Regions from separate parts of the Homo sapiens genome. Here region 2 is linked to region 1. The links come from fine-mapping of genetic effects on gene expression. Tissue or cell type: whole blood. Region 1 holds a variant in brackets; the other region holds the start of a gene. All regions are shown on one strand. Distances are from middle to middle.

Region 1 (4,208 bases):
AAGTCCTGTGGTAGCAAGAGGAGAGGAGGGTCCAGCCCCTTGCCAGATCCCCTTCTGTTTTTACCCCTGGCCCATCCCACACTAAGAAGGGCTTCATGTGTGTCCATGAGGAAATCCCAGCCCACATTCCAAGCCCCATCTATAATTCCTACAAACAACTTTTTGCTGGCCACCCCCAGGCCTGCATGTGTTTCAGGTCACACTCAGGAGGACAGACATGGGCAAGAGGCCTGCAGGTCTAGGAAGCAGGCTCAAGACCACTTGGGTGGGGAACTGTGGTTTCCCAGGTACCTGGAGCATGGTCTAGGAGTGGGGCTTGCAAGCTCCAGCGGGTATGTTACTTTGGCCACATAGAGACCTCACCCTGTGGGGAGGGTAATGGCCAGAGGAGGGCCAGGGTAGGGCCCTCCAGCCTTGGGACCCAGGACAGGGCCTCTCTTGGCCAGATCCAGGAGTAGTACTAGACCTCCATTCCATCCTAAACAAGGTCCTAAAACTAGGGCTGAGGACAGGGCTGGCCTAGCAAGACTGGGTTTTTTGACCTTGGGCAAGTCCATGACATCTCTGGATCTGTTTCCTCCCTTGTGCCTGAGGGAACTGGAATGCTTCCACATTGTAGAACCCTCCACAGAGTTTGGGAAGCAGATTTGAATTTAGACTCCTCCCTCCATCTGGCAATGCTGAGACACCGGCCCCACCCCCACCACCAACGGAAGAGAGAGCCACAGTGGGGAAATGAACTGCCTTTATTTTTTTATTTCCCATCCAGAAACCCCAGTGTGATGGTGGAAGCAGCATGAAAACAACATCTCCCCAGGCCTCGCAGTAGAGGCGAAGGGAACAGGGCTGCCCATGTGCCTGTCTCTAAAGACGCCACCCTCAGGTTGATGTCACCTGTGGGAGACCGGGTCCACCTACAGACACCAGGTGATGGTCCACCAGGCCCCAAGCTCCAGCCTGCTGAGTCCCCAAGACACAGGCTCATTAAATAGCTTCGTACAAAAACCCAAGGGTGTCCCTCCAGCTGGTAAAAATTGGGCAATTTCTACTTGAGGTCTGCTGTGGGGGTGGACCTCACCTTGGAGATGTCTTTCCAGAATAAAACTAAGCCCTACTCAGGAAAAATGGTGATGAAAGGCAGCTCACAGACATGCACGACTAATAATCTTATTGAAAAGGGAGGAGCTCAGGCACACAGGAGGACAAGGCTATGCAATATGCAGACATGAAAGAAATGCCACGGGACGCTGTCAGGGGTCAGCAGGAGGCAAAGAGGTAGAGCTCTGGCCAGGAACGCTCTGCCTAGAGAGAGCCCTCTGCAGCTGGCCCTAGATCGGGGACTCAGGGGAGTATCTGCCTAAGGACCAAGGAGACACCAACAGCCTGCCCAGGTGTGGGCTTGTGCAGGTCACACAGTCCTCATGAGTCTCCTGGACAGGAAATGGACATGAGGGACATTTTTGAGACAGGGGGCAAAGTGCAGAGAGAGCCAAGAGGTCAAGATGGTGCCAGAGATTTTGAAACCACAAGAGCCGCCCCTTTGGGAAACACTGAGAAGAGGAGCCTCTTCTCTAGCCTCTGCTTGGGGCAAGCCTGGGTCAGGTGGGTTCTCAGTACTTTTTCACAGTTAAGTCTTTTCCTGGGCAGCCACATCCACGTCAGGCTGGGCTGGGCTGTGGCCAGTCGAGGGGTCCTTTGGCAGGTTCAAAGCTGTGAGCCACCCCGAGAGAACGTGCCCACTTCCCTGCTTTGTGGTTCATAGGCCTAGAGAGACCCGACAGCGGGCTGCCCAGTGTGAGTGAGAATGCCTGCACGTTTCGGTGGTCAGGGGCGGAGAGGCCTGTACTCCAGATTCCCCAAAGAGATCAAAACAT[T/A]CTAAAACAGCCTGCAGGTCTGTGTGTGTCTAACAGTGCTCAGCCAAGTCCACGGCCTGGGTCAGCAACATTCCAGAAGAGGAAGAGCATTGTAGCCGGTTGTTTGGCCAAATGGTAGCGATGGGGAACAGGTCTCAGGTTGGGCATGTGGAAGGTTTTCCAGTACCTTGGATTAAGACAGGATGCAGTGGTCCTAAATTCTTCCAGTCAGACTGAGTTAACAGCATGTCTTAGTAGCAGGAATTTGTCCTTGTTTTTGTCACACAAAGGTTGGTGGAGACGGGGCCAGGACATGGCCAGTTTGATGACAGTGGAGAAGCTGCTGCCAGTTCTGTGGGGCGCAGCCCACCTTCTCCTCACGGCCCTCAGGTGAAGTAGCGGCAGGGCGTGGAGTCGATGTAGCAGTACTGGGTGCATTGCAGGTCTCCATATGACCTGAGGGAGGCAAAGACACGTTCTAAAAGGCCACCTCTTATATGCTGGTGACTTCCGGTCAAACCTTATCAAACAGCGGCCAAGGGCCAATGGCTCTACAAGAACTTTTTCCCATTCTCATTTGGAGTGAGAGGCCTGGGGGAGTTGAATCATGTCTCTGGGATTTTTGCCTTGAGGTCTAGCTCGGGGCCTGGGTGGAAGGAGGTGGTTGCCCTGCTCTTAGCACAGCATCTGTGAGGGAATCCCCCTTGCTACGATGCAGCCTACCAACAAAAATGTCCTGTATCTGTGAAGCCACTGGCCAGATGTGGCTATTGAGCTCTTGAAATGTAGTTACTGTGACTGAATAACTGCATTTTTTTTTTTTTTTTGAGACAGAGTTTCGCTCTGTCCCCCAGGCTGGAGTGCAGTGGTGTGATCTCGGCTCACTGCAGCCTCTGCCTCCCAGGTTCAAGCGATTGTCCTGCCTCAGCTTCCTGAGTACCTGGGATTACAGGCACGTGCCACCAAGCTCAGCTAATTTTTGTATTTTTAGTAGAGGTGGGATTTCACCATGTTGGCCAGGGTGGTGCCGAACTCTGAACCTCAGGTGACCTGCCCGCCTTGGCCTCCCAAAGTTCTGGAATTACAGGCGTGAGTCACAGTGCCTGGCCTGAGTAACTGCATTTTAAGTTTACTTATAATGACTTTACATTTGAACAGCAGCCTGTGAATGGGGGCTACCATATTGGACAGTGCAGTTTATACCTCTGTAGGCCCGGATGATCATCCGAGACAGGGCGTTAAACCTTACAGGCACAGTCACAGGCGTCCCTCTGAGGCTTCTGGGGAATAGCTGTGTAACCACAGTGAGCGTGGGGGAGCCCTGGGCTCTACTCGATCCTGTACTCCATATCTGATCGTCTACATTGATTTGTCTCTGTGGAGCCATGAAGAGCCAACTCTCTGGCAGAGGCCTGTCAGGGGTCTTCCTTCCTTCAGGGAGAGGGGCACTGCACACAGACACATACATGGAGTGGGGTCCTGGCCAAGCCTAAATGGGCTTAGAGTCTGGGGGAGACTGGGGGAGACTACAGGTCTGTAGTTCTCCCAGCCTGGTTGAACATGCTAATATCTGAGTGTTAGGGAGACCCCCTTGGAAGAGAGAGCACAGAGAAGGCAATGGAGAGACAGGCATGGCTCCCCAGCCCTGCCAAGGGCCCAGGTCCGAGTCTACAAGAGAAAATGGGATGGGAGCAAAAGCTGAAGGGACTGGACTCAAGGACAGAAGAGATCGGAAGCACCAGTAGATCCACTCTGGAACCCAGTGAAGAGCAGGGCATGGCCTAGGTAAAAAGGAACGGCCTCCCCATTTTCCTGAGAACGTTGTACAACTCTGGTTCTGTAAGGACTGGGGAGACATGTACCTTCTGCACCTTGGAAGGAGCCCAGTGGTTACAATCTGGGCATGGAATCAGCACCTCATGGGGCGGTGGCCCTCAGTTGGCTTGGCAGGCGCCAGTGTGGAGCCAGGACACTAGAATACTTGTCCTGAACAACATAAATAGCCACTGAGGACTCTCAGAAATAACTAGAGGGGTCCTTGGAGGGAGTATTTTCTTGGAGGGGCCATGAGCTTGCAAAATTAGATATTAAGGCTGATTTGATCTCACTTGCAGTCACAGGCATGCCTGAGGGATGGGCAGGGTGTTCCAGGGAAGTCAGGTTAGGTAGACATGTCGATTCTTGGAAATGCCCTGAGACCTTTACTCTCCACTGGGCTTCCCACCTAGGCCCACAGCCCAGGAGACTATGTAGTCATGGTGACCACTGGGTTTGGGGGCTGCTCATGCAGGGCAGCAGCTGAGCTCAGAGACCGCAGCTCCCCTCTGGGCCTTGGATGGAGCAGGTGGCTGTGGG
Region 2 (4,231 bases), 70 kb after region 1:
GCCTGTGGATGTGCGCACTGGTTGTTCTCCATCCCAACCCTCCCCTTGGCTCTCTGCCCTCAGTGTTCCAGTCCCTGACCTCCAGGCTCTGCCCTCTGGCTTCAAGTTGGGTTGGCCAATGAGAGGCGCTGCCAAAAGGTGCTTGGATGGGAGGAGAGAGAAGATGGTGTACTTCTCCTTCACTTTCTCCCTGCTTTAGGGCCTTCCATGACCAATGCTCTTGCTTAATGGCCCCTTCTCTAAGGCTCCAAATCTGCCTGGGATCCATTTTCCTATTTGCCCCTCTTGCCTTTTCAAGCACAGGGTGGTAAAGGCATATTGCAGTTGCTAATCTCTAGGTGCCTCAGCATTCCTTGTTGGTTCCCTTAACCCCGCCCACACCTCTCAAAGTGATCCCTTCATTCAGATCTTTTCATCTGAACCACCTGAGTTGCTTCTTTATCCTGCTGTTGCCCTGATTGGTACAGTCTGCAAAAAGCTTACCTAAGAGATATCTATGTTGTGCCAGGGTGCTCTCCAAGGCAAAGAGTTCAAAAGAAAACCAGAGGTTCTTTTCTCTCTAGTTTTCTGAACTCCTTAACCACTTTGGTGCTATTTAAATTAAGTAATACAAAATGATGGTAAACCCCAGTTTGCAGATGAGAAGCTTTTATTCATTCATTCATCAAATATTTATTGATTACTATGTGCCAGGCACTGTTCTGACCCTGGGAAAACAGTAAAGTACAAGAGAGACACATGCCCTGGCCACATGGTGCTTATAGTGTAAGGCCACTGTCTCTCAGAAGTCAGGGAGCTCATCAGAGGCAGGGCTAGAACCAGAAAACTGAGTTTCCTTAAGTCCTAACCTTCAGCAGATTCTCAAAGGAATCCATGACCCAAACATGATTAAGAACCACCAAATTAGGCCAAATTAACTCTCAAGCTTCTCCCTTGAACTGGGGAATGAATAATGACTACTCACTCCTAGAAGAAGCTTGATGCTCTTAACTTGAATTTGCAGGGGCATGTGGGCACACACCCACGGTGACACCACCACTCACCTTTCCTGCCCACCCTCCTGAATTCTCCACAAATCTGCCCCCACCTCCTTCTGTTTCTCACACTTTTATAATTAGCCTCACACCAGTCTCTGAGTCACTCCCTCATGGCCCACAAACGTTGGCTACACAACTTGCTGATGAGCTGTTTTTATCAATGGACAGCAGTTGGGAGCTGGATTCAGAGATGTGCCCTCTCTGAGAGCCTGGCATTTCTGGCCCTCCCTGTGTTTCCAGCAAAGGCAGCGATAGTGAAATTTCTGTCTCAGTTGAAGTATTTATGAGACTCATGTTGGAGGCATAACTAAAACTTTGCTGGGGAGAGTCAGGGGTCACTGAGGTGAATTGAGGGGGGCTGTGAGGGTCTGCCTGCCTCCTTCAAGCCCTCCGGAAACATTTGAGTTTCCTCAGAAAGGTTTAAATAGGCCATACTAGTAACCGAATACTTCCCCTGCTCTGGGTCAGACAAGACAAGGGCAACAGGCTGCTGACCTCAGAAAAGGTTGCAGGCTGGCAGACACAGCCCCTTCCCCAAATCTCCCAGCCTCATACCCGGCAGACACACTCAGCTCCAGACCTGGCTGTCACTGTGGAACCCCCTCCACTTCTCCCTGGAAAGCTCACTTCTCTCAGGACCTCCAGCTGCCTTGTCTGAGGCTGAAGGGAAGTCGCACCCAGGAAGACAGGTCTGGAGAAAGGGAAAACCTAGTCCTGAGGCTGCAACTGCCCCGCCGCTGTTCACCCCCCACCCCACCGGCCCCTGCCACCTGCATTTTCCCTTCGAGGGACTATTGTGGCCATGGATGCTATCTGGGTCTGGAAAGAGGTTTGTTTACTCCACAACAGCCCCTGTGAGGCAAGCCCCCTTCGAAGAGGTCAGAGATGTATTTATAGAAACATCTGAGACTCACTTCTCTATTACTTGCACACCTCTGTCTCTTTTAAGCTCTCCCAAATTCCTGACCAAGATGAAATCATGCAGCAAATGGGGAGAATAGGGGAGGCAGAAACCATTTTTCAAAGTGTCTCTGCTTTGAGCAGCCAGGTAGGAGCCGGTTGGAACAAGGACAGAAGGGGCTTCCGAGACAAGCTCGGGTGACAGGAAGCTGCTGGGGTGGCCGTCTTCCTTCCAACCTCCCTCCACCAACAGTTGAATGGCAAAAACATCAGGACACATTGCAAAACAATCTTCCTTCCTCCCCCTGTCCCCTGACAGATGGAAGAGAGGAAAGTTGTGGCCATCATTTACCTGCTGAGATTGGAAGAACGCTGTTGATGAAAGTCGGCTGAGACACGATAGAGAGGAAGAAAAGCTGAAGATAAATTCCCAAAGTCATTGGATTCAGGACAACCATGCTGGCCAGGGTCTGGCGAGGGTCAAGTTAGAAAGGAGGCTGCTGCGGAGCCTTGCTTATCTCTGCTTTTCTCTTCCTCACTGCTGTTTGCGTGCGCGTGTGTTTGTGTGTGTGTGTGTGCGTGTGTGTGTGTGTCTGTGTGTGTGTGTGTCTTTCCCTCTTTCTCTTTCCCTCTCCCTCCTCCTCACCCCCTCCCTCTCTCTCCCTCCCCCACCTCTCCTGTCTCCCATGCCTTTACCAAGAAAGAATGCCAACCATTTCCCATTAAACTGTCTCCATGCTACAGAGAGTTATATTTATCTCAAGCTCCATATCAAATGCCCACATTAAAATTAAGATGTCAAAATTTTCTTTTTTGGAGACTGAGGTAAGTGGCTAGTGAAGAGGTGATGAGAAGGCAGCCAAGTCTCAGATGTTCACTGGAGGCAGTCCTCAAGGGCAGAGAGATTCCTAATTGGTTATGTGCCACCATCTACCTCCTTGGAACTGGGCAGAAACAACTCTCCTGATTCAAACTGAATTTCATGGAGAAAAACCCCTCCACTGTCAGCCTGTGACATTTTTACCCATTGTGTAACAAATGTAAAGTTAACTTTTAATTTTTTTCTTTAATCATCCAATAAAAAGGAGGAAGGAAGTAGTTTATATTTCCAAACAGCTTTCTCTGTGAAAAAGTGTTTCTCTCTCCAAAAGCTGCAACCTTTTGATTCAATGCAAGGCAAAATAAATGAAAACAGTAAAAGTATAGAAAAGTGAATGATTTTTATCAAACTATATTCAGAAAAATAACATCACTAACTTAATCTTTGGCTAGACAAAATTATTCAAATAAAAATTATCACATTCTTAATACCTTTTATGAGTTTATAAAAGCCTGTTATAGAGATGATTAGATGACTAAAACAAAATAATAATTCACAGAGTTGTTCATTTTGCTTTAATTTACATATTACATGCCTCATAGGAGTTAACTCAGAAACAGTCTGCTAGTTACTGGATGCTGGGGTGGGCATCCTGCCCCTGTGCTCATTATGGGGAAGGTGGAGTTGGGTCAGGGCGTGGTATAAAGTGATATTTTACAGCTGTAGCACCACACTTGGGCTTGACTCTCAGCTCTGAGTGGCAGTGGACAAGCTCACCTCTCTAAGCCTCAGTTTTCTCATCCATACAATGGAGACAATGTTCCCTTTAAAGGTTTGTTGGAAAGTTAAGTGAGGTAATGGGGATGAATCCTACACGGATTAGAACTTGCACATAGGAACAGCACAAAGGAGACCCAAGGGAGCCATGGTAGCCTGGGTGCAAAGATGGCCTCCAAAAGTCCTCCCAACCCAGTGTGTGCATGACACTCTTCCCAGCAAAAAGCAGGGCTAGTTCCCCTCCCTTAAATCTGAGGTGGCTCTGTGACTTACTTTGACCAATAGAATGTGGCTAAAGGGACACTGTGCCATCTCCTGGCCTAGGCCTTAAAAGGCCTGGCAGCTCCTGCTTTTGCCTTTTCTTGAAAATCAGCTGCCACTTTAAAAAGTCTGGACTATTGAAGAGGCCACATGGAGGGGGAAGCAGCCAGCCTCCAGCTGTTCTGACTATCCCAGATGCAGCATCAACAGGCGAGTGAGGCCATTTTGGAACATCTAGCCCTGTCCTGGTCTCAGATGATGCCAGCCACAGGAGTGACCCCAAGTGAGACCCTCGAAAGAACTGCCCAGCCCAGATTACGAAGTCATGAGCAAATAAAACGGCTATTGTTTCAAACCAGTAAGTTTTAGGATGACTTGCTCATCAGCAATAGCTAACTGATACAGAGTTGATAAGGAAAGCTTTTGAAAGCATGAA

What was found. PIP is the estimated chance that this variant, and not a neighbour inherited with it, causes the effect.
Region 2: COLQ starts here. The variant in region 1 is fine-mapped to the expression of COLQ in whole blood (TOPMed, PIP 0.98).

What each region holds. Positions count from the first base shown.
Region 1 is chr3:15,449,405-15,453,612 of GRCh38, forward strand. COLQ (collagen like tail subunit of asymmetric acetylcholinesterase) reads right to left here. Exons shown (of 17, transcript NM_005677.4): 17 at 729-2,309. The coding sequence ends at 2,240. Among named protein-coding and RNA genes, the nearest start is that of EAF1, 24 kb to the left of the region's middle. The variant T/A (reference allele first, on the strand shown) is at 1,875.
Region 2 is chr3:15,519,231-15,523,461 of GRCh38, forward strand. COLQ (collagen like tail subunit of asymmetric acetylcholinesterase) reads right to left here and starts at 2,476. Exons shown (of 17, transcript NM_005677.4): 1 at 2,290-2,476. The coding sequence starts at 2,395.